Homo sapiens: one gene and its partners. The protein of the gene in region 1 purifies or fractionates together with the protein of each later gene. This does not show direct contact. Each region holds a gene or a part of one and is shown in the gene's direction. Other genes may lie near its edges. The genes, in order: ARMC8, ZMYND19, RMND5A and MKLN1.

Region 1 (7,037 bases):
TTTGTCAGTTAGTTTTCTTTGACTATTAAATTGACTGAACCTCCGAAAAGCGAATTGTCAAAATCTTCACTCTCAAGATAAGTGATATTATTTGGTTTTCGATTTTTTAATAAAATCTTAAAGGCAAATAATTTTTCATTTAAAGCTTTAAACTCCAAGCAAAAACTTATTTTCTGCTGTCTTATTCCAGTTTAACTTACATGTGTAGAGCTGGAGCAATTCGGACAGATGATAACTGTATTGTATTAAAGGTAAGCTAATTAATTATCTTTAAAATGTGAAAATTATCCAGTTATGTGTTAAATATCAGTATTGATACTCATATTTCATTTTACACATTTATCATTATGATATATGTGCATGGCGTAGAATAATATTGAAAGACCATGCTTTCTTTTCAGTGGATGTCATATAGTTTTTAAAAATTGATTTTAGATGTGTTTCGAAAGTCAGCGTGAAATAATTATTTCATTGTCACAGCCTTTCATTTTATGGTAATTAGGAGGATGTGGAAATTGTAAAAGTGTACAATTCAGGTGAAACAGAAAATATATTTCGTTCTTGATTGTCATTAAATTTGTACTACAGTTTTAGAGGCAGACGATTTGCCACTTTTGCAGAAAAAGACTTTATATCATTCTCATAGCTGATAATCAAAAGGCATAATGAAAGAGAATAAGTAGATAACACATGAAAACAAGCATTGTCATTGTGATATGTCATATACAACTTGAATTTAGAAAAACCTGGAGAAAAGACCAGCCCTAAAAGTCCTAAAACCTGGATTCTGGTTTTAGCACTCCCACCTCTGACTGTACATCCTTTATTCTTTTGATGCCTCGGACTCCAGATTATGAAAATTGAAGCAATAATTCCTGCTCATCTATGCACAGGGTTATTGTGAGGATAACAATATATTAAATACATTAAAATGTCTTATTAGCTATAAAAAATTAAGTATAAGTAAATTGATGATGTGTCATTTTATAAATATGAGATCTCACATTATCATTGTTCAAAAGGTGATCCCAAGGATAAAAGAGCACAAAGAAGACTAATATTTGCTTTAGTCTTTGGGGAAGAGAATTAATTTAATGAGATCTGAACACTCCCTAAGTAAACAACTCTTCATAGAGTGCCACGGACTTCCATAGCATTTATCTTGATTTATTTACTTCTCTAACCTTCCTCTTTTTCTGCATTGGTAAAATGTTAGTAGTATATTCTTCACATAGTAGTCATGAGCATTAGATTACATAATTCATGAATTTATGGTATCAATAAATATTAGTAACTAGTAATGTTAGGGAAAAAAGAATAGGGCCTTCCCCTTGGAAACCTAGGGTTGAATTATAAAGCTTCTACTAGCCTAATAGGAAATTAGTAGTGAACGATGAAGTGCTAAGCTCTGTGGTAAAAGATATAATAGGAACTTATTATATATAAAAGAGCAAAGCACAGTTGCCTGCAGTATTTGAGGAAGACTTTCTATAATGATAACATTTCAATTTATACTTCCACATTGTCCTTTCAAGTGGATCCGTCAGGCTTAGAAATAGTAAATGTCGTTCGAGACCAGCCTGGCCAACCTGGTGAATCCCCATCTCTACTAAAAATAAAAAATTAGCCAGGAGTGGTGGTGGGTGCCTGTAATTCCAGCTACTCAGAAGGCTGAGGCAGGAGAATTGCTTGAATCCAGGAGGCAGAGGTTGCAGTGAGCCGAGATCGTGCCATTGCACTCCAGCCTGGGCGACAGAGCGAGACTCCGTCTCAAAAAAAAAGAAAAAGAAATAGTAAATGTCTGTAATATTTTTATTGAGAACCTAATGTAGATAAGTTACCAAACCATTGCCAAGATTTTTGAGGGACCTCAGAAGTAAAATTGGACTCATGGATACCACTGCTAATTCCAGCAAGTTACTGGGAAAACCTAGCAACTGTGATACATTTCAGTTGCATTATAGTAGAACTGGTGGAATCTGAGTAATGGTAAGATCACTGCAGTTTTAAAGCTGTATTTTGTTTTGGCAACTGTAGGTATGACTCCCCAAACCAAAAAATAAACGATATTACTCACTAAGGAAGAGATAGCATACTTTTCCTAAGGCAAAATCATTCCTGATTAAACTGCTGGGTCTTTTTTAGGTAAATAAATAGATAGATAGGGCAGAACCATCAGACATGATTTGTTAGGGATTCTTAAATGTCTTTTACAAAGTTGTACAATAAAACTTGTCTTATCGGTCCCAAAAGCCTAATTAGAATTTGTATTAATATACTTTGACGTACGAATAGAGTTTAATGTGCCAGTACAAATTATTAATGTGTACTGAATTTTGCTTGTTTTTGCATTTTAAAAAAATCTTTTATTCTCTAGAAGTCAGTAAAGGAAATATATGATCATAAACATTACTCCTGATAAAAGCTATTGAGTTGATTCAGTCACTATATGCTTAAGCTTTTACCTTTACCAAAAAGCAAATAATTAATCTCACTACCTTTCAGACATTACCTTGTTTGGTTCGAATGTGCAGTAAGGAGAGATTACTAGAGGAGAGAGTTGAAGGAGCTGAGACACTTGCCTATCTGATTGAACCAGATGTTGAGCTACAGAGAATCGCTAGCATAACTGATCACCTCATTGCCATGCTTGCTGATTATTTCAAGTATCCCAGCTCAGTGAGTGCCATCACTGATATTAAAAGGGTATGTTATTTTCCTTTTTTAGCAGCTCAAGGGAGATTTTTCTAAAGTTTTTCTTACTGTTCACAGTTTTGAACCAATTGATAACTACAGCTTAAAGCCCTTTTAAATAAAGGTTCTTTTATCTTTGGTAACATAGATAATATTGCTTTGTGAATTTTTGAATCCAAGTTGTTTAATGTTTATTGTCAGAAAGTTTTTACTGAGCAGATAAGCAATAAAGAAAATTGCATCCTAACTCCCCAACTAAACCTCAAAAGTAGTGGATTCTCCAAGCTGGGTATTGACATAACCGTATAATCTTATTCTTGGTCATGGAATCATCTCTGTTGTTACATTCTCATTCTTTAGGTCAGGAGTAATCTTTTTGTTACAGGAGACTAAGTTGTCCCATGTTACTTTCCACCACAGTCTATTTTGTTACCTTTCCCTATCTTCTCTTTTTCCCAGTTTCATACTGTGCTTTGGGCCTGCTAGTGACAGCTAAAGCATCATTTAATCTTGAATTTGGGACCAAAAAGGCCAAATTGTGCTTTTTCTGAAAACCTAAGTTCCTTAGAATAGATCGGTATTTATTTTGACTTGTTGCATCTCAGCCTGTTTGCCCTATCCATTTCTTTAAGCATAGGAGATGAACATTCTGTAAGAGAAAGTTTATTCAAGGAGGTCATGGTAGAGAGAACATTGCCTCTTAATTAGTAGCCAGTACTGTTTCATGAATGTAACTGTATTTTTCATGCCAGTGGTTCCAATGGTAACTATTCTCCTTTTGACCTCTCCCTCATGCTTTTGAGTTTCAAAAAACCTCATTTGGTAGGCAGTTGTTCATTTGGCTTTTAACTTTGAAAATAAAGCAAACTATTAAGGGTATATCTTTACTCTGTCTTAAGAAGGGCCTAAAATAACCTTCACTGGTATTTGTATTAGTAATGTACTCTACTCTCTGGGTATTAAACTTATGTGTCTGCTCTTCTTTCAGTAGTGGTGTTTTTCCAGTAGAAGTGATGGGTTACATACATTTAACCAGTTGCCTTGTCTGTTTTCCTTCTGGTCATTTTTTCACACTGACACTGTATCTTACCAATACAAAGATACATGAGCAACCCTTAGCTACTGCCTCATGAACGCCCTGAGTTGACCACCCCAGGAAGGCAAATAAAATGTTTTGATGGCCATGAGAGTAAGGAAACAATTTTAAGAACATGTAGCCTATGCATATGCAAATCATTTAACTAGTACGTAGATTATCCCTTCTGTTAGTTTTTCCATTTCATTTCCATCAGAGTAAAACTGTAACAACAATAATCCTTAAAAATGACATCGTAATACCAAACTTGAGTAATAGTTTGTTTTGTCATCTTTATTTTTGATGATGGATTATCCAAAGGTTTCTGACCCGAAAAGTATAGACACTAGACCCGTAAAGAGAAATCTTCACATGTTAATAAATTTGTGATTTTCATGATATGTTAGTTCAAGTCAGTATTATATCTTAATTTATGACTAGAATGTAGTTAAGACTTTAAGAGTAGATACTTTTAGAACTTATCAAAGTGAGTATTCTGTATTGGGAAGTTCTTCCTATAATCCATCAGTGTCTGCTTTGAACAGAAGTTTTGGAACTATTAAGAATTGCCTTCAGAGCCACCCCAAATTATATATATATGTAAAATATATATATTGTCTTTTGCTTTCTGTGGAATTTTTTGTTACCTACGTTATATTACCCAACTGAATTTCTCCATCTTCACACACAGTCAGTGACAACTAAAAGTCTCATCATTGATCAAGCTATACCACTGTCAGTGTTTTCTAGCTAATAATACCAGTTAGCTCTTTAGGAAGTTTCAAAAGAGGGTCTCAGAATGTTATGAACAACACCTACATCATTGGATGAGTGAACCTTTCCAAAGTAACTTCTTTGGGAAAAGTGGTATTCATTTGGATGATTACATTAAGGCTTTTAGTTACGAGGTTATTTATATTATTGGTAGACTTTGTATAGTTACTTGGTCATAGTCAGTCATTGAAAGTATCCTGAAAATATGCTTCTGTTTTATCTTTACAGTAGTTTGGTGATCAAGTTTATAGAAGAGTTGATAATTAGTTATGCATGTTTAAAGATACCATTAATTGCTTCATGCTGATAATTTTGATAATGTTCTTGAAAAAACCCATACCCAACATAAATCTCAGATAACTGTAATAGATAATAATGGTTACCATAGTATACGGTTTGTTAAGCATTTTCACAATGGGTTCTCTGTTTCTAAAAGCTTTTTATTTTATTTATTTTTATTTATTTATTTATTTTTGAGATGTAGTCTCGCTCTGTTGCCCAGGCTAGAGTGCAGTGGCGCGATCTCGGCTCACTACAACCTCTGCCTCCTGGGTTCACACCATTCTCCCGCCTCAGCCTCCCAAGTAGCTGGGACTACAGGCGCCTGCCACCACGCCCAGCTCATTTTTTTGTATTTTTAGTAGAGACAGGGTTTTATCGTGTTAGCCAGGATGGTCTAGATCTCCTGACCTCATGATCCATCTGCCTCGGCCTCCCAAAGTGCTGGGATTACAGGCGTGAGCCACCGCGCCCGGCCTCTAAAAGCTTTTTAAATGCCAAAATTAGGCCAGCACTACTCTTAATGTTTCAGAAAATTAAGGGAACCCTCCTAAAGACATTGTTGCGATTTCATTCAGGTTATCAGCTGTAGTCTGGGGCTAGAGAAGTCCAGGTGTGCCTTCTTTTGAAGGAGAACATTTCAAAGAGCTGCTGCAAGCAAGCATTAGTGCCAGTAAAGCTACCATTTAGGAACACTGAATTTTTCGGAGTCAGAGATTCACAATGGTTTTTCATATATCAGTGTCAAATATAGTGTTCACTTTTAAATGGAAGCATATTGTGTGCATTTTAGGTCACATTGATACGAACACTGCAAAGTCTCAGTGCTATGTGAACAGAATCCAAAAATAACTGGGAAATGTAGTTAATGACTGGGAAATTCACTAAAATCTAAAAGTTGTAAACTTTTTTTTTCTTCAACTCAGTTAATGTTATTGAAAGTTGAATTTATGGACTGAGTTGGAACATATCCTTTTTTTCCCCATAGCTTGATCATGATTTAAAACATGCTCACGAACTCCGCCAGGCTGCATTCAAGCTCTATGCCTCTCTTGGAGCAAATGATGAAGACATCCGGAAGAAGGTGAGTCTGGGAGAGGGGCGTCCCCCAGTCCTGACAGCCAGCAGGCAGGGAGTGACGTCAACCTGAAAGTCGTGGTGAAGAGCACTAACAGTGACTGTTTGAATATAATAAAGCAGAGTGACTAAAGGCATAATTGAAGAATGAATGGGACCCGGATTTGGGGGGTTGTTTGTTTGTTTTTAGAACATAGAGTGGCATGGCCGTGCTGGAATGACAAATAACTGGCGTGCTTTTTTTTTGTGTCATTAATATGAATTATTATGTTGCACATTTTTGCATGTGTTCTGATAAAAATCAATTCTAGCACTGTGAAGCTTCAGACACCTTGAAAGTCCTAACATTAGAATTGTAAATGTTATTTATGGAAATACCTTCCAATGCTATTGAGAAATTCAAATCTCTATTGTATATTGTTCTTTGATATGTGGCTTAGTTTTATGTTTTGATTTTTTTTGCTACTGTGCAAGTTTAATGTGAATAAAATCTTTGTGGAATGATGATTTTATGTTTAGTGAGTGGTCATCTGAATTTTCCAGCTCCCCAGAAAATGTATGCACTGGTATAGCACCCTTATGTTACTAAAGCCTAGTCTAACACTGAACTCATGTTCTTGATGAGAATACTTCTAGATGAGGAGTATAGTGGTAAGTAAGCTCTGACTTGGCTCCTTCCACAAACCAAAAAGCTGGAACTTACCACTCAAAAACATGTATAACCTAATAAATTCTACACAAGGCTTTCAAGACCATCAGAGAGCAAAACCACATGTTCTGTCTTGAGGAGCCATAGCAGAAAGAGCAAATTAGTCATTATTTACTGAACATGATGATTTACTAAATCTCTCCATCTGCATTAGTATTTTAAGGAGCACTGTGAGAGAAATCACAAAGTATTAGAGTTTACCATGATTCAGAGAAGTTCTTCAGGCCTGTAGAAAGAGGAGTATGGAACAACCTTACATTTGTTGAAATAACTTGAAAAGGAACCATTTCTTGAAGAAACTGAAGTAATAGCAATAAGATTTGATGTGTGAGTAGCTTTGATTTAAAATCAATGCAAAAAGCACAACTAATAAATTGAATGTTTCCATGTACCTCACTTTATTTCAGTTAACAAGATACTTTGACTTGA
Region 2 (5,969 bases), on another chromosome or scaffold:
TGTATGTTGCACTTCAAACACCAAGTGGACTTTCTGCTGGGAGCTTGCCCAGGACCGGCAGCCTCTGGAGGGACGGTGGTTGCTCCCCTTGCTGGGTTTTGCCGAGCCCCCCCGGTGTGCATGGTAGGGACCACTCAGATGGGGAGCTGTCTCGAGGCCATCTGCTTAGGTGGTTTTGCGTTCCAGCTTTGGCTGTCTGTGCTCTGAAGTCCAGGGGCCGGGTCCTCCCTGTGTCCCTGTCCTGTTTGGGCCACAGATCAGGTGCTTGGGTTTCTCTCAGCAGCTTCCGCCTGAGGTACCCTCATCCAAAGGACCAGGGGCCCGATCAGATCACATGGCTGACATTTCTTCCTGGAAGGACTTTGGTACCTGACCAGAAATGTCTGTGAGGGTGGGAGGCAGCGATGCAGGGTTAGATGCAGGGTTTGCTGTCTGTTTCTAGGGAGCGGCACCGGGGGGGCGTGGCCCCGGGCTTCCAGGTGGTGCACCTCAACGCTGTGACCGTGGACAATCGCCTGGACAACCTGCAACTGGTGCCGTGGGGCTGGCGGCCCAAGGCTGAAGAGACCTCCAGCAAGCAGAGGTGGGTCTTCTCAGGGCCTGGCGATGCCAGCAGAGGCGCCTTTTGAGGAGGGCCACCGCCAAAGCTCTTGTTTCCAAGAGGGTCTCCTGTTCCTCCTCTGAGCCCTGATGCTTCTGTGTATTTTGGGAATTTCATTGTTTTTCCCCAAAGCGTGGAATCCTCCTTTTCTTCATGGGAGCGGGAAGGATCTTGATGGTGTGTGTTTTTGCATTGCTCCTCTTATAATTGGCTCTGGGAACCTCCCTTTAGCTGGCATGACAGTGGGGAGAAGGGCTGCCTGCTCCAGGGCAGGGCCAGCGTCGGGACTCGGTGTGAGCAGGGCTTCTGCCCCACACCCCTGGGAGGCATCAGCCTTCTCTCCTCACCTCAGGATTCCTTCCTTCTCTGCTCACCTCAGGATTCCTTCCTTCTCTCACCTCAGGATTCCTTCCTTCTCTCACCTCAGGATTCCTTCCTTCTCTCACCTCGGGATTCCTTCCTTCTCTCACCTCGGGATTCCTTCCTTCTCTCCTCACCTCGGGATTCCTTCCTTCTCTGCTCACGTCAGGATTCCTTCCTTCTCTCCTCACCTCAGGATTCCTTCCTTCTCTGCTCACCTCAGGATTCCTTCCTTCTCTGCTCACCTCAGGATTCCTTCCTTCTCTGCTCACCTCAGGATTCCTTCCTTCTCTGCTCACCTCAGGATTCCTTCCTTCTCTCCTCACCTCAGGATTCTTTTCTGTGCACACAGATGGGTCTTTTTGTTGTGTTCTTTTGCTAAACAGTTTTCCTTAAGCAAAGGTTTAAAGCGGAGAATGGTTCAGGGCTCAGCCCTCGGCCCCCGACCTGCCTGTGATCCTGAAAGCAGTGCTTTGCATGGGCTTCCCACCTGGGAGGGCGGTTCCTGCTGGCCCTAGAACCAGCCAGTCTGTGAACTTCATGGAGCCCTTGGGAAGAGCCAAGGGACCAGCAGGATAGGGGTTGGGAGCCCAGTTGAGCCAGGGAGTCCCCAGCCACACACGCTTCACTGACATGTTCCCCTGGCGCCCTGGGGCTTTTGGGCACGTCCTCAAGCCTCTGGGCAGCCTTTCCTGGTGCAGGCAGTGCGAACTGCCCTAGCAGATGGTTGTCAGCAACGCTGGTAAGGTTTAGTGTTTCGGGCTTGGTGATGGTTGGTGGCTGTGGGTAGAATCTTTGCAGTTGTCACCTCAGAGTCATGCCAGAGCCCTGGGCAGCCGAGGTGGAAACAGTGGGAGCACCTGACACACTGGTTGGTGATGTGGGGACAGTCCCCAGGCCTCCAAAATGCCACTCCCAAACTGCTGTTCCTGCCACCCTGGAGGGAGTCCTACAAATCCCCCCCCATCCCTTCCTCACTGGGCCTCTCAGGACGAAGGCAGAGCCTGAAGTGTCTTTCGTTCTTGTTGGGCTGGTGTTTTTTTTTCCCTGCTCTGTTTATTTCATTAAATTAATTAATTTTACGGATGGGTCTCACTATGTTGCCCAGGCTGTTCTTGAACTCCTGGCTTCAGGGAATCCTCTTGCCTCAGCATTTTTTTTTTTTTTTTTTTTTGAGACGGAGTCTGGCTCTGTTGCCTAGGCTGGAGTAGCGCGACCTTGGCTCGCTGTAGCTTCTGCCTGCCCAGTTCAAGCAATTCTGCCCCAGTCTTCCTAGTAGCTGGGGTTACAGGTGCCCACCACCACGCCTGGCTAATTTTTGTATTTTTAGTAGAGGTGGGATTTTGCCATGTTGGCCAGGCTGGTCTTGAACTCCTGACCTCAGGTGATCCGCCTGCCTCAGCCTCCCAAAGTGCTGGGATTACAGGCGTGAGCCACCACGCCTGGCCCCGCTTCAGCCTCTTGAGTAGCTGGGATTACGGGTGTGCACCACCACGCCCGGTCCTTGCTCTAATATTAGAGTTTTGACCTTCCTCATACTGCTTGTGAGTGAAGCCAGGCCTCTTACGATTGTTGAATGGGGTTTTTATTCTTTCGGGGATTATGTTAGTTGGAACTTTGGGTTGCAAGAAACAGAAACAAAGGTCAATTTGGCTGAAACAAAAATAGGGTACATTTTGGTATCCTGACTGAAATGTGGAGAGCCAGGGATGCTGCTGCCTCCAGCTCTGCGCCCCCACTCCCGGCTCCTCTCTGGGAGGCGGCATGGGCACTACCTAGCACTTGCGGACTGAAGCAGGCACCCTGTTCTAGTGGTGTCTGGGGAAGCCCTGGGATGAACTGTAGTTAGCTTGCTTAGAATCACTTTTCTACATGAAAAGGGAAGGGGAAGGGGAAGGCGTGCTTGGCAGGCAGAGCAGCATCTGTAGCATCTCCTCCTGCGTTGTCCCACATTGATACATGCTCAGTGTTGATGCTGGGATGGGCCCTTCCCAACTCCGCAAGTTCGCCCGCTGCTCACCACTCCACCTGGCAATGCCTTCTGTCCCTGCCATGGTGCGGGTCATTTCAGCCGGTTCTCAACAAGACTCAGGGTCCGGCCAGCCTGTGACTGAATGTTACCTTGAATCCTCTCAGCACCCTTTATAATCAGGAGAGGAGATAACTGCCGTTAAGAACAGCCGTTTGGAAAGGGGGTGTTGGGCTGATGCTCCTGGTCAGCCCATTCTCTGTGGGCACGGCAGGATGCCCATTCTCTGAGGGCACAGCAGGACGAGTTGCGCTGGGGCTGCTGCCTTACACAACCCCCTGCTACAGGAGGTGGGCCTGGGGTGGCTCAGGACTGATCAGGCTCAGCCATCTTTGGTTTGCCAACATGGGGTTTTAGAACCCAGCAGGTGTTGGGCCTCTTGTGCTGGGTCAGCACCCCAGGCCCCGAGCAGAAGTCAGAGCTGGCCAGTGTGGGCCTGACATCCTGTCTGGCTGGGTGCTGTGTGTCCGTCTGGATCCTGGTCTGTGGCCTCCTGTGATCCAGCTCTTTGTGGTGGGGTCACCCTGTCTTTGTTGACTGGCTGGGTGCTGTGCGTCCGTCTGGATCCCAGTCTGTGGCCTCCCTGTGGTCCGGCTCTTTGTGGTGGGGTCACCCTGTCTTTGTCAGGCCTGGGCTATTGCTTTGCTTTCCTGGCACTGTGTCAGCTCAGCCCCCACAAAAGGGGCCTCTTGGCAAAGGGGTGTTTTCCTGTTCTGTCTTCAGAAGCCAGCAGTGTCTGAAACTTGCCTCTGTCTGGTGGGACCTCACCAACATCTTCCCATGTCCTGATCCTTCCCCGTTTTAACCAAGTCTCCTCAGGGTCTGGCTTCGGAGAACGGGGTTGGTGGGGTGGTTTATGCAGCTTCTTTACTCCGTGATGCAGCAGGGCTGGGGCTGCCCACGCTTGCCTCTGAGCAGCCAGTGCACATGCCTTTGAGGCTCCGTTCTTGGTAGAACTCTCCCGTTGTAGGCATCTGGCCTACTCAAGCAGGAGGAGTTTTTAGACGGACGTAGGGCAGCTCCCGGTATGGAAGGGGAAGTGGACCGACGGGGCAGTAATGGGCACCTCTGCAGGTCAAGGGCAAGGAGAGGGGCCGCCTCGCTTTGCACAGGGGCCTGACCTGGGCCCTGTCTCCTGCCTACTGTGTGCCTGTCAGTCCCAGGTGCTGGGGAGAGGGTGATAGATGAGGCCATGCTTACGGGTTAGTGGGAAGATGAGACACAATATTTACTGTCAGGTGGTGAAAAGCACATGCAGCAGGGATGGGCCAAAGGAGACTCAAACTCGGGCTGGGTGTCCTGGGCAGGATGGCACTCTATGGAGTCATTGCATCGTCTGCTGTGTGCTGGCCCCGTTTGGCCAGAGTGCACTCAAGTGTCTGCTTCTTTCTTTAAGGGAGCAAAGCTTGTATTGGCTTGCAATTCAGCAGCTGCCTACAGACCCTATAGAAGAACAGTTTCCTGTCCTAAATGTGACCCGGTATTATAATGCCAACGGGGATGTAGTGGAAGAGGAGGAGAACTCTTGCACCTACTATGAGTGCCACTACCCTCCCTGCACAGTGATTGAGAAGCAGGTGGGTGTGCTGCAGTGCGGTCGCGTCCCTGGCACCTCTACCCTGTAGCCCAGCCTTGGTTTGGGATCTTGCCCTCCACCGCGGGGTCCCATTCCCCAGAGACCGCTTAGCACCTCTTGGGCTTTTCCACCAGAGTGGTCTCCCTTTGCCCTTGTGCTGGCCTGACCAGGGCCCAGGCCCTCCAGCCTTGGTACGTGGTGTTTTGCTGGGTCCGTCAGATTGTCCGTAAGACGCAGCCTTTGCCCCACACTGCGTCCCAGGCATGATGGTGAAGCCACAGGTGTTCTGTATTTCAGCTCCGGGAGTTCAACATCTGTGGGCGCTGCCAGGTGGCCCGGTACTGCGGCTCCCAGTGCCAGCAGAAGGACTGGCCTGCCCACAAGAAGCACTGTCGGGAGAGGAAGCGTCCCTTCCAGCATGAGCTTGAGCCAGAGCGATGACGGGCAGGGGAGCCACACATACTCACAGCCCCCGGGCTCTACCCTGGGCACAGCAGAGACAGACTGGTGGTTGAACCTGGAGGTGCCAAAAAAGCCAGCTGCGGGCCCAGGACAGCTGCCGTGAGACTCCCGATGTCACAGGCAGTCTGTGTGGTTACAGCGCCCCTCAGTGTTCATCTCCAGCAGAGACAACGGAGGAGGCTCCCACCAGGACGGTTCTCATTATTTATATGTTAATATGTTTGTAAACTCATGTACAGTTTTTTTTGGGGGGGAGGCAATGGGAAGGGTAGAAATTACAAATAGAATCATTTGCTGTAATCCTTAAATGGCAAACGGTCAGGCCACGTGACTAAAAACTGTCCTGTTGTCGAAGCTTCTCCCCTGGGCCGCCGGGAGCCCCGTGGAGCGCGGCCTGCACGGGAGTTGTGTCCACAAAGGCAAAGTAAAGGGGTGGAATCATCTGGCCTCTCGGACATTCTCTGCTCCGCCTCCCTCTTGTGCTGCTTAGGGTGAGGTCATTTTGAGTGGAGCCGAGTCCTTGTGGGTGAGGCAGGAGGACCCTTGTTCCTGGTGGGCCCTTCTGAGGAGCGGGTGAGCTCAGACCTTCCTGAGTCCAGCAGGGAGTATGAGTGAGACTCTGTCCTTGTCTTGCGGCAGGAGTGGTGGGGTTGCTAAGTCAGCTGCCCGCTGTTTTATGGGGAGTAGGATGCTCTCGCCCCTGACATTGGTTAGTTCTTGCCTGATTTATGCATGAAGTGGCTGGGAGCTCAGCAGTGAGCTTCTGCCCAGAAGAATCCACAGGGCATGTTCAGCAGGCCTGCTGCAGATGGTGGAGGGGGCTGGCCAGCCAGGGTGAGGTGAGGGTCTCACTTCTCCGTCCGTCTGCAGGGCTGTGGTTTCCAGGATAGCCCTCCCTCTCCTTGGGGAGCCCCAGGTGTCTGGGGCTGGTCAGCATCTTG
Region 3 (6,288 bases), on another chromosome or scaffold:
CGGTGAAATCCCATCTCTACTAAAAATACAAAAACAAAAAATTAGCCGGGTGTGGTGGCGGACACCTGTAGTCCCAGTTACTCAGGAGGCTGAGGCAGGAGAAGGGCGTGAACCCGAGAGGCAGAGCTTGCAGGGAGCCGAGATTGTGCCACTGCACTCCAGCCTGGGCGACAGAGCAAGACTCCATCTCAAAAAACAAAAACAAAAAACAAAACAAAACAAAAAAACATAGTGCTAAGTGAATTATCTATACCTGATACATAAATTCCTAGAACTGAAATTGCTGGTTCAAAGGATATATGCATTTGTAATTTATTTTAGTTAGTGAGCTCAGCTTTTTTTTTTTTTGCGATTGAGTCTCACTCCATCATTCAGGCTGGAGTGCAGTGGTGCTGTCTCAGCTCACTGCAACCTCTGCCTCCTGGGTTCAAGCAATTTTCATGCCTCAGCTTCCTGAGTAGCTGGAATTACAGACGCACACCACCACACTTGGCTGATTTTTGTATTTTTAGTAGAGACAGGGTTTCGCCATGTCGCTCAGGCTGTTCTCAAACTCCTGAGCTCAAGCATCCACCCACCTCAGCCTCCCAGGTGTGAGCCACCTTGCCTGGCCAAAATTGTTGATCTTAGTTCAGGCTGTACTGGTTTCATGTGTCACTGTGAGGCATGTGGGCCGTTCTTGGTGTGGGCTTGTAGCTGCCATCAGATTTGCTGCCCTTGAATGGATTGTGTGACCAGTACATTTGAAATTCATTTAAAGACTGTTGCAACCTAAACCTTTGGGAAAGAGAAATTGAATTTATTTTCGAAACCCCAAAAACAATTTCCAGAAAAGTTACCTTTGTTTTGTTTAAGAAACAATTTAGGATCTGGCATGGGTGGTATGTATTTGTGACCCTTCAAATCTTGGCAGTTATATTAAGGGAAAGCATAGTTCATCCTCAAAGCAAAATACAAACAGACTTGTTTTTGTGTGTTCTTATATGTGTGTATAATTGTTAAAGATACTCTATAACTAGATAAAAATTGAATACACAGTACTGAGCCTGCTCCTTCACTCAGTGTTTTCTTCTTTGTCTTTAGATTAAAATGTCCCTACTGTCCAATGGAACAAAGTCCAGGAGATGCCAAACAGATATTTTTCTGAAGAGATAACTTTAGTTTGCAATTTGTAAGTGAAACTGAATCGTGGGTGCATTTCAGAAGAGAACGTTCCATATAATGCAGCTAACCAAGGACTCCTGTGTTTCTATAAGCTAATGCTCCAGAAACTTTGCCAACCTGTTAGTGTACACACACTGAGGGGAGTGCTCCCGGTGAATATTATCATAGGGCTTTATTATATTCTTGGTCTTCATTTCTGATCAAGTAAATACACCAGCAGTTGTCATTCAATGCAGGTTTTTGTACTTAATTATATGGTGATTTTTTTACTTTTTAAGAGCAGAAACGGAAATTGACCTCCCCGCCATGTGTTTAATATTCCTCCTGCTTTTACTTTTGTCATTTTCTTGATAATCGTAAGCCTTGAGAGTGTTTGTGAAAAAGTTTTATTTCCTGTTATGTATACATAATTAAATGAAAATTCTTCAGAAAAAGTTTGATAAATTGAATTGTGGTTATGAAACTAATTTGCATTTTTATTTGCTTAAGAAAGAAAGCTGTGATAGATTCCAGATATGCTTTTTGATGTTTTCCTCTGCTCCAGCTCCAAGAAGTCAGCACACCTGCATTTTAGCTCTGCATGCAGCCCCAGCAGGCTGCGTGTTTAAGAATTTCATTGTTTAACTGGCTGGTGTGAGAAGTCTTCCGTTAGCATAGAGTGGAAGGAGTACTATTGTTTGGTTGGGTTTTTGTTTGTTTGTTTTTTGTTTTTGCTTTTATTGCCAAGAGGTGCTTGTTTTAAAAGTATGTTTAATAAAATGAAATTCTAAAGTTAGAAGTGTTCTTAAGTTGATATTTACTCTCTTGGTCTTGGTAGCCCTATTATATCATTGCAGACACAGTGTTGTGCATGTGTGTATTGTATATGTGCACCAGCATCAAACATTGTGTATCTGGAAGGAAAGCAGCATGTTCCAGTTCTAAAATGCAGTTACCAGACCCATCACTTTAAATCCTTAAAGTTAGAAGCTAGCAAATTTTCTGTAGTGCAGAACGTTTATTGCTGTTTTTGTGTTTGAATAGTATAATGTTTGATGCCTCTCTTCTGCAAAGCGTATCATCTCATTGACTGTGAATCTGTATATTATTCTGATGGATACAGATAATGATCTTTTCTCTTGTGAGGTATCTTCATTTATGCACTGTCCAAAAATAGCCATGTGTAAGAGTCTTTCTGTATGACGAACTACATGGAAAAGACTTCTGTGGACATAATTCTGACCGAAACCCATGAAGTTACTTCAGTATAAGAAGAACGTTACACGGAAATCACCAAATATTTTGCAACTTTATTTCTTCTGACATGGAGTGAACATCAATAGGAATACTTTCAAAGAAAATGAAAACACAGAAGCAAAGAGAAATGTGGCACTTCACATTTTAAACTACAGATGGACTTGGTTTGAGGGAGGGGGAATCACAGATTTGGTGCTAAGTTAATTAGAAACTGGCAGCGTTTTACAGTAGTACACCAGCCTGGATGTTTTTTCTAAAATGTTTACCTGGGAGAGCTGGGGTTTGTTTGTGAGGAGAAAGAGTACTGTGGAAAACCTCTGCTTGAGTACCATGTGGCCAGGCCTATGTGGATGGCTACTCCGTGCTGTGCGGCTTCACCAGCGGTTGGGATTGGCCCAGCTTGGAGTGCTTGTGTGGTCCAACCTCAGTCTGGCCCCATAGCGACTTTTGCCCCATGATTCTGCTTCACTGTTGGAATCCTCTTTGAAGTTCCCCCTCTCTTTGCTAAAGCAGTGAAGGAAGAGAACAGAGACAAACTCTTTGGACTGTGAAAGAGAAGGTAGAGAATTCCAGGCAACAGTCTGACCAAGGGTGTAAACCAGTTTATTATATATATATTTTTCCTTTGAATTAAAACCTAGAGTGTTGTATTTTTCTTTCTTTCTTTTTTTTTTTTTTTTTTTTTACCCTTTTTCTCCTTAGGCCAAGTTTAGCTTATTCTTATCTTTCCACCCAAACACCTACACAACGTTTAGGCTTCCTGTAAGGTTTGAATGAGACAGATGTACTCTGAAGGCTGGTGGTAAATGTGTTTGATGACCAGACTCTTCATACAGTCGGCTTGGGCCACTTTAAAGGACAAAAGCCAGAGCTCAGCTTTATCCCTCTCCCAGTGCTGGGAGCCAAAAAACTGTTGACGGTTTTTTGTGCAGCTCAAGAAAACTTTGAAAAGAACATGCTTTAACTGAAGCATTGGACTCTGCAGCTTTCTGTGTAAGGCCCGTGTACTCCCACTGGGCAGGGTGAGGACCAAAAATCTGAAACTCTTATGAATCTGACATATTATATGGAAATTATATCTTGTGACCGTCTTCAAGTGCATGGACTTAAAATTCATGAGAGACTAAATGTGAGGGAGAGGTGGATTTAAAGAGGCCAGACCTTAACCAAAGATGCTGAGATACAGCATTCTGTCCCCCCTGCCCTAGAAACTCCATAAATGCTGTCACAACCCTATCATCGCTGATGCTTTCTGCATGTCAGCAGTCCAGGAGGATGCTTTTTGTCTCTCTTTGCCTCCACTTTACAAAAGATAATATGATAGAGGCAACGTTTATAACAGTCACATTTAATTATAATGTACATCAAAGGCAGAATTTCAGAATGGTTTCTTAAATTTCCTTGGGAACCGTTTCCACATATCAGTTATAGACAAAGGCCATGGGACTATGCTAAACCAATAAAACCTTATTAGCAAATCTTTAGATTCTGACTTAGCCAGAGCATCTGAGTGTTCAAGTACAGTTTTACAGTGGCTAAGGTTGTCTCTTGATCTTTTTTCTCCGTTGTGTGATCACAGATGCTATTTCTGTTTTATTGGTGATTATACGAGACTTCTAATACATAAATGAACGGGTATTGGTGCCTCTTTATTTTAAAAAATTTGAAGAAAAGAGCCACCTCATATTCATAGGGTGTGTATTTTTTGAGTGTGAGCATTTAATTGAAAATAAGAAAGCTATGAAGTAAATGTTAACTTCTCTGTAGCAGCTAATGCATAGAGACACTAAAACCCACACCACATTTTGTGGGAAATGAGGATCCTGATCCTCTTTTGTCCTCTCCAGGTAGTCTCGCAGGTTATGCAGCTTAAGTTCAGTCTTCTTTATGCTGCGATTGATTTCCACCTCAGTGGCTTAGCCTTTGGGACAGTGGATACTGCAACAGCCAAGAACTCTTGGTTATCCGCACAAGCTGCTGGTAGACTACATTAGCCCTCTGGTTTTCCAGCTCAACCTCTGATAAAGTGGACTGAGAGCCACGCTGCTCAGTCTGTTTCGTCAGCCGACTCAGGTTATTTTCAGGGAAGGCATGGAGGCATAGTTTGGTTAGTTTCATCACTAGGATGTATAAGGTGACGACACAAACCAAATACCTTTCTTTCATCACTTAACTATACGTACTTTATCTCTGGTAACACTAGAATGCTGTGGTCTTGAGGGAATGTTAGCAAGGAACACATAGAAGATTTGGTGTTTCATAAGCCTGTCTAGGTGTGGCAGGTTTTGTGTGGTACACTGATGTTTACCATAAGCAGGTACAAGCTTCATGAACCGTTCTTAATGAACTATAATTGAATAGATACCAAAAATAGAATGACAAATGTATTTTAATAGCAGATGAGGCAGTTTTAGGATGAATTTTCCACTGTTGATTTTACTTCAAGACATAGCAAGAGAAACAAAATTTTGTTTTCAAGACATTTCCACTGCAGTTTCAAGCTGTAGTGGGCATATGCTTCATTTACTTCCAAAGAGGCAAAAGCAGCTGGAATTGGCTTACAGCACATGCTTTGTTTCATGTTATGGGTGAGGACCTACATACACTCTTACTTTAGCAGTCACTTAACCTTCTCCAGCAAGGCAGTTGTGGGGTTCACTAGGATTTAGTGCCTGATCTTTTTTTTGGGAAGGGGCGGGAATGAATGTGTTGGGGCTGGGAGGGAAGCAGAAGAAAATGGGAGTGTGAGTGAGTGTGCATGTGTCTGAAGTTCACCATTGCCCCCACCTGCACCTAGCAAGGAACAGGTGTTTGATGTATTTTGCTCATGACTGCAGTATGCATGTATTTTTTTCCTTCTCTGTGTTTTCTAAACTTACACTAAAGGATTCATCAAATCATCTTGTTCAGATGGCTCAGGATTGTATTTATTTTGCTTACCCCGTGCTCTTGGGTTCTATAGTATTTCTATAATTATGTAACGAGAATAGTGTTGCACTGTAATCTATCATATAGAGCTATATGTATGGAAAATTTTGATCAATTTTTTAAGAAATGTATCCTGTTTGCAAAGGCACAGTAAAGTTGCATCTTATAGACTATAGGCAATAAAGCTAACAATAAACCTTATTTAACACAAACCACATCCATATCCTCTGTTCATTTGATTTTGGAAAAAGTAGCATATCCAGTAGTTTCAGGGAATTCATTTTAACTTTAAGAATTCTGATATATTTAATTTATAAATTTCGGACTGATATAATAGAGTTTTGGAAAACTATAAGAAATGCTTTGTTAATGTGTGTATTCCTATGTAAAACACATGGCTTTTCCTGTGTATATTTTTAAAAATTAAAGAAATGCACATTTAAAAAGTGTTTTGTGGAACCAGTCTGTATAAATGTGCCAGGTGACAAAGGTATGAGGGAGGGAGTAGGGAGGTGCTGACTGTGAGAAGAGAAAATTGCTGTCTGTATTTGCTAAGGGTCTGCATGTCAAGAATTTAAGAAAATATCTGTCCCCATCTTACTGTGTTTCTGTGCCACCAACAGTGAGAAGAGAAGGTGACTGAGCAGTGTCCCGAGTTGTTTTTTGTTGTTGTTTTGAGACAGACTCTCACTCTGTTGCCTGGGCTGGAGTGCAGTAGCCCAATCTCGGCTCACTGCAACCTCCACCTCCTGGGTCCAAGCGATTCTCGTGCCTCAGCCTCCCGGGTAGCTGGGATTACAGGCATGTGCCACCATGCCCAGCTAATTTTTTTTTATTTTTAGTAGACAGTGTTTCACCATGTTGGCCAGGCTGGTCTCGAACTCCTGACCCTCAAGTGATCTGCCCACCTCAGCCTCCCAAAGTGCTGGGATTACAGGCGTGAGCCACTGCACCTGGCTG
Region 4 (5,294 bases), on another chromosome or scaffold:
CACTTTTTTTTAGCCCTAGACTTCCTAGATTTTCTGTGGCATTCTGTAGGACATTGTATTGCTTGGAAAAAAAAAGATCAAAATCATTCTGGGGCAAATGCTCTATTATCCTTATTTATGACAAGAGAATAATGAAATTCATAAGAAATTAATAACATTCAGATATTGCTATAAATGTACTTGAGTCATTTTCATTTGGGGATAGTAATAATGGCTGTGGCAGCTTTAATGGAGAAACCTGTGTTGGCCTCTTTTTCTGGCATTAGGATCTCTTGTCATAGAACTATTGGTAAAGTACAGGTTTGATAGCAGAGTTCCTGAATTCAGCATATCATCAGAATTTCCATTTACCTTTTGTCTTTTCTTTTTATTGTATTTTTTAACCTTTTTGTTTCTATTCCTACCTCCCATGAGTAACATTGATTTCTGCTGAAGTTAGAATTTGTGTTAAGAATTGACTTTAAACTTCTGAAATAGTTGAATATTAGAAGTGGCTTCAGTTGCCATGAAATGATTGCTTTTCTTTTTCTTTTTTTTTCCTTAAATAAAAATAATGCAGCCTTATATATGTCTCTTCCCCTCAAGAATGTGAATTTAGGCTGGGCATAGTGACTCACGCCTGTAATCCCAGACCTTTGGGAGGCTGACACGGGAAGATTGCTTGAGCCCAGGAATTTCAGACCAGCCTGGGCAACACAGGAAGACTCCATCTCTACTTAAAATATTTTTGTTTTTTAGCCAGGTGTGGTGGTATGTGCCTGTAGTCCCAGCTACTTGGGAGGCTGAGGTGGGAGGATCACTTGAACCCAGGAGTTTGGGGTGCAGTGAGCTATGATTGCGACACTGCACTCCAGCCTGGGCAACAGAGCAAGACCCTGTCTCAAAAAAAAAAAAAAAAAAAGAATGTGAATTTAGCTCCAATTCCAAATGACTAACTCTTAGGCCAGTCATAGCCAATGAAATCATCTGACGGTAGCTTCTGTAGCCCTTAACCTAAGGAGTCATTAGAGGTTATAGTAAATTAGTTTCTCTAGTGGTGCAGAGAGAAATGCCATCGGGGAAATTATCACTGTCTTTTTGGCTAAAGTTTTATATTGTGAACTGGATCCCACTTAACAGCTTAAAAACACAAAAATGAAAGGGTAGTCCTAGTTTATCTTCTTAATTAGAATCATTATTTGGAAATAAGATTTGCAATGTGCTGTCTATCCCCAAACACTGCTGAGCTTGCTGGAAAACAGAATTTAACATGAATGTTGTCTGAAAGCTGTAGGATCAATGGCAAAAAAGGGGAAATGTTTGGTAGGGAATTGGACCAGTTCTAAGGTATCACTTTTAATTATAAAATAATGTCTTCCTTTTTATCTGCTTTTCAGACAGCCTCAGTGAACTATTAAACATTTGTGTGCAAAGTCCTATTTTGCTTATCTAAGGCATTTTGACTTGGAAGTATTAAACTTCAGGAACGAGCTAGAGAAGACAATGAGGGTATGTTAGAGAAGGAAAAATAGGAGCTTTTTGCTTATGGATTTTAGAGGTCCACAAATCGAAAGGAAAAATAAATTTCTTCATTTCTAACCCTAAAATAATTTTGTTAATGAGATGCTGGGAAGAAGACTACCAAAAGGCCTCAAAGCTCATGCTTCTAGAATATTCAGTAATTCTGAATAGTCTTTGGGAAGTAGCATTTCTTGGGAAGTAGCATTTCCCTTCTTCCAAATAACTGTTTGAGATCTTAAAACAGAAAATCCAGTGTTAATGGGCTCTAGATCTTAAACTAGGTGAGCAGCTTCTTACATACAACCAGTTCCTTGTTAAGGATCCAGCAGGAAAACCAGCCATAAAACATTTCAACATGCAGTTTGGGGGCTCCCTTGCTTATTCACTGAGTTTAAGCTCTTGCTGCAACATAGCTCTGTACCATCTGGGATGCTAGCAGTCACAGCAGTTAGCTCAGATATCTGAGCTGTCTGCCACACAAAGCCTGAGGAGATCATCATTCTTCAGTTTCATTCATTACTTAATGAATGCCAAATTAATTGGCAGGAAGAAGAAACACTGTGTGATATACTGAACAAGCCTGTGTGCATGAATAAGGAGCCACTCAAAAAGCCAATTTTGAGCTTTATTTCTCCGTTGTTAACAAATCTCAAGAAAGCCTTTGTTACAGTTTAGCTCATGTCATTTGGTTGGTTTTATTTTCTAGCCCTTTAACATAGGAGGAAAATTGTCATTTCATGTATAACTTGTAACACAGAATTGAACTGATACTAGTTTCCTTGCCTTAAATTAATTATATGTCATCCCAAGGGTCTCTGTTAATTCTGCTTTGCCAAGCAATAATGAGATCTGGGTTTGGCATTAGAAGTATTTCATAATTTTGGTTTTTTATTTAGGTTTCCTCCACATCTGTAAAGTGATTGATTAAATTAGAGGAGGCGTGTAGAATAAATCCCAATCCCATTGCAACTGGCAGAGCTTTATAAATCTTTATAAATTCAGTTACAACAAAGGAGAGGATCCTACACCATTAGAGCCATGCCATCAGGTGTTTGCAAGTGACAGCTGTAGTGTGTTGCCTCAAATAATACCAAGTTATAAATAATACCAAGTAATTATCAACTCACTCCCAAATTTAATAAGATATCAAAGTCCAAAAGGTTACTTAGGAGTAGTCTTCCGTGGGGGAAGATAAATTTATTAAAGAGTCATGTACTGATCTTTTTCTTGGGATTTTTTTTCCTTTCCCAGAAAAAAAAATTATTTTGGTGACTGATCAATTGTAAACAATTTTCTTCCTTACTTACAAATCATCCGTTCAGAAAAATAAAAGTGGACTTCCTTTCCTAAGCATTACAATTAGCCTGGGCAAGAGGTGTTATGATTGTCTTATTCTTTAAGCCGGCTTACTTTTTGGATTTGTGTGAAATGTCTTTTGAAAAGAAAGTAGATAGTATAGTATTAATTAACTACTTTGTATAGTCTTCTGCATAATTTAGAGTTGAAAATAATGTAACATTTTCCTGTGAACAGATTCCTTTATGCGTACATACTTTATAAATATACATACATACACATACACATACATTTTTAAAATGCTCTTTTTAAAGAGATTCTTATCTTGCTCCCACTCCAAAAGCTATGTACAGTTGAGTTATTAGCCTCAGAGGAAGAGTACAGGAAAGCGAAGATGAGGACCTCCTTTTCTTGTGTTGGTCTTGGGAACAAACAGTATTCCGTCTTTCAAATATGGCATATTTCTAAACAGTTTGGGAAAGATGTTAGAATTTTTTAAAAGTCAGCTCTTTTATAAATTGGAAGTACTCAGTAGTCAGAAATTAAGATCCCCTCTGATAGAGATAGATTCTCAAAACCAAAATTGGACTGAAAATTAGATTGAGAAGAAAGATACAACTTCCTCCATAGCCAATAAAATCTGTCTTTCCAAGTCTGCTTATTAATGCTGTGAATCGCTCCTTCTGTTTGTGAAAACATCTCCTGGACTGGAAATGTGGTGCTGTAACCAGCTGAGCCGAAAGTTGGAGAATGTTAAATATCTTATATGGGACTTACGATAAAATGTATTGATGTTAGTGATTGTCAAAATAGGTTTATCATTTAAAAAACTAGGAAATTACTAAGTATAAAGAAGAAAAACCAGTATTAATTAAGTGATGAGACCTGTTCATTTTGTTTTCCCTGACTTATTTCCATTACCAAACATAGTAAAGGCCAGAAAAGATTAAAAAAAAAATTAACACAGCCATTCCATTGTTTTTTACCACATGGAGAAAGGACCAGGCTGGAAGCATATGTCCCCCCACCCTTATTTATATTCCTTTGAGCATTGCCGTTTTCTAGACAGACAATCCGAAAATAATTGTGTTGATAGGTCTGTTTAAGCCTGAACTCTGGGTGTAAAATGTTATCCAGAAGCTATAGGGAGCTGCCTTGCTCAGGTCATTGGAAATTTCAACCCTAAGACTCATTGGAATTTCTAAGTCCGTTATGCACCATTATGGGCATATGGAGCATATTCATACCATGAGGAGGAGTCTTTGTTTATGATGGACTTTTTAATATGGCCATAATTAAACTCACACTCAAAAAGGATGAGCTATTGTCAAAAGCCAAAAGAAAAACAGACAAAATGAACATGAAGCAAGGAGTCCATAAAACAAGAGTTCTTTACCACGTTTAAGCAAATGTCTCTCAAAAAAAATTGTATTTCTGTGCACATTAGCTGAGATTCACACATTTTGCACCTCAGTAGTATTTCAGATGAGACTCAATGTGTGGAGAAAACCGCTAACTTGTTTGGTTCTACTCTTACCCCCTCTTCTGTGGCAATGTGGGGTCAGGGCCGTATCCTAAAGTATCCACATGGTCTTAAATGGAAATCATGGGACTCTGGAAAGCTGGCATGAGCTGGTTGGAGCTTTTAAACAGAAGTGCTTTATGGGTATCAGATCTCTTCTGACATCAATTGTTTCAAATCATTGTTGGGCTCTGTCGTGTTCTGCAATCTTCCCCATTCCCCTCATGATCTCTGGCTTATCTTTTATCCAATCTGTATGGACTTTTTAGGATTTTTTTTTTCTTATAGTACAAATAATTTTCAGATCCCAGCTTTGGTAAATGTGTTAATTCTACTTTGTGAATAAATAAATGAGTGATCTGCTAAAAATGGCAATTGTAGAATTATGTTGTATGTAATGTACATATGGAGAAAGAATGTATTTTGTTCATTTTCTTAATAAAATGTTATATATGGATGCTACAAGATATCTCTTGTATTTGCTCAAACTACTTTTGAAGTGAACTTTTAAAATGTTTTTGTACTTTACAGTTGTGTTTTTTCCCCCAGAAAGGTGAGTTTTATTTAGGCTTCCAAAAGGAAAGTGATACGCTTTCGAAGGGCCTTTGGGTGTTTTCCTTTGAGACGGTGCTCAGATGAACAAGTACCGGCCATGCTCACAAAGTTTCTGCGGGGAGGCTTCCACTTATTTAAAGACCACTGGTAAATTATTTCATGAAATGTTCTTCTATCTACTGTTAATGACCACCCTTATTTTATTTGCTTTGTCCACTTGGACTTATGTTCCTCTTTAAAGGGGATATGCTTGTACAGGCTGGAACTAGAAGGAAAGACTGAACTGAAATGGAAAATTCACTGTAGAAAAGATAGTAAAGGGAGAGAACCTAGAAGTGTTGCAGTTTGGGAAAATTCTGGATCCCTGTCCCCATTAAAGGGGAAAGACACTTTATGGGCCAAATCTTGAAAAAACTAAGCT

What was found.
Region 2: the proteins of ARMC8 (region 1) and ZMYND19 purify together in Homo sapiens (affinity purification with mass spectrometry; 4 studies listed by BioGRID and IntAct, with this or other methods). This does not show direct contact.
Region 3: the proteins of ARMC8 (region 1) and RMND5A purify together in Homo sapiens (affinity purification with mass spectrometry; 7 studies listed by BioGRID and IntAct, with this or other methods). This does not show direct contact.
Region 4: the proteins of ARMC8 (region 1) and MKLN1 purify together in Homo sapiens (affinity purification with mass spectrometry; 4 studies listed by BioGRID and IntAct, with this or other methods). This does not show direct contact.

The regions. Positions count from the first base shown.
Region 1 is NC_000003.12:138,239,278-138,246,314, forward strand, and holds part of ARMC8 (armadillo repeat-containing protein 8), read left to right. Parts: intron 1-190; coding exon 191-251; intron 252-2,505; coding exon 2,506-2,706; intron 2,707-5,810; coding exon 5,811-5,906; coding exon of another isoform or gene 5,907-5,972; exon of another isoform or gene 5,973-7,037. UniProt on the Homo sapiens protein: Component of the CTLH E3 ubiquitin-protein ligase complex that selectively accepts ubiquitin from UBE2H and mediates ubiquitination and subsequent proteasomal degradation of the transcription factor HBP1.
Region 2 is NC_000009.12:137,581,581-137,587,549, reverse strand, and holds the end of ZMYND19 (zinc finger MYND domain-containing protein 19), read left to right. Parts: intron 1-442; coding exon 443-583; intron 584-4,386; coding exon 4,387-4,567; intron 4,568-4,863; coding exon 4,864-5,007; 3' UTR 5,008-5,469; downstream 5,470-5,969. UniProt on the Homo sapiens protein: May be involved as a regulatory molecule in GPR24/MCH-R1 signaling.
Region 3 is NC_000002.12:86,772,265-86,778,552, forward strand, and holds the end of RMND5A (E3 ubiquitin-protein transferase RMND5A), read left to right. Parts: intron 1-1,083; coding exon 1,084-1,147; 3' UTR 1,148-5,777; downstream 5,778-6,288.
Region 4 is NC_000007.14:131,491,853-131,497,146, forward strand, and holds the end of MKLN1 (muskelin), read left to right. Parts: 3' UTR 1-4,780; downstream 4,781-5,294. UniProt on the Homo sapiens protein: Component of the CTLH E3 ubiquitin-protein ligase complex that selectively accepts ubiquitin from UBE2H and mediates ubiquitination and subsequent proteasomal degradation of the transcription factor HBP1.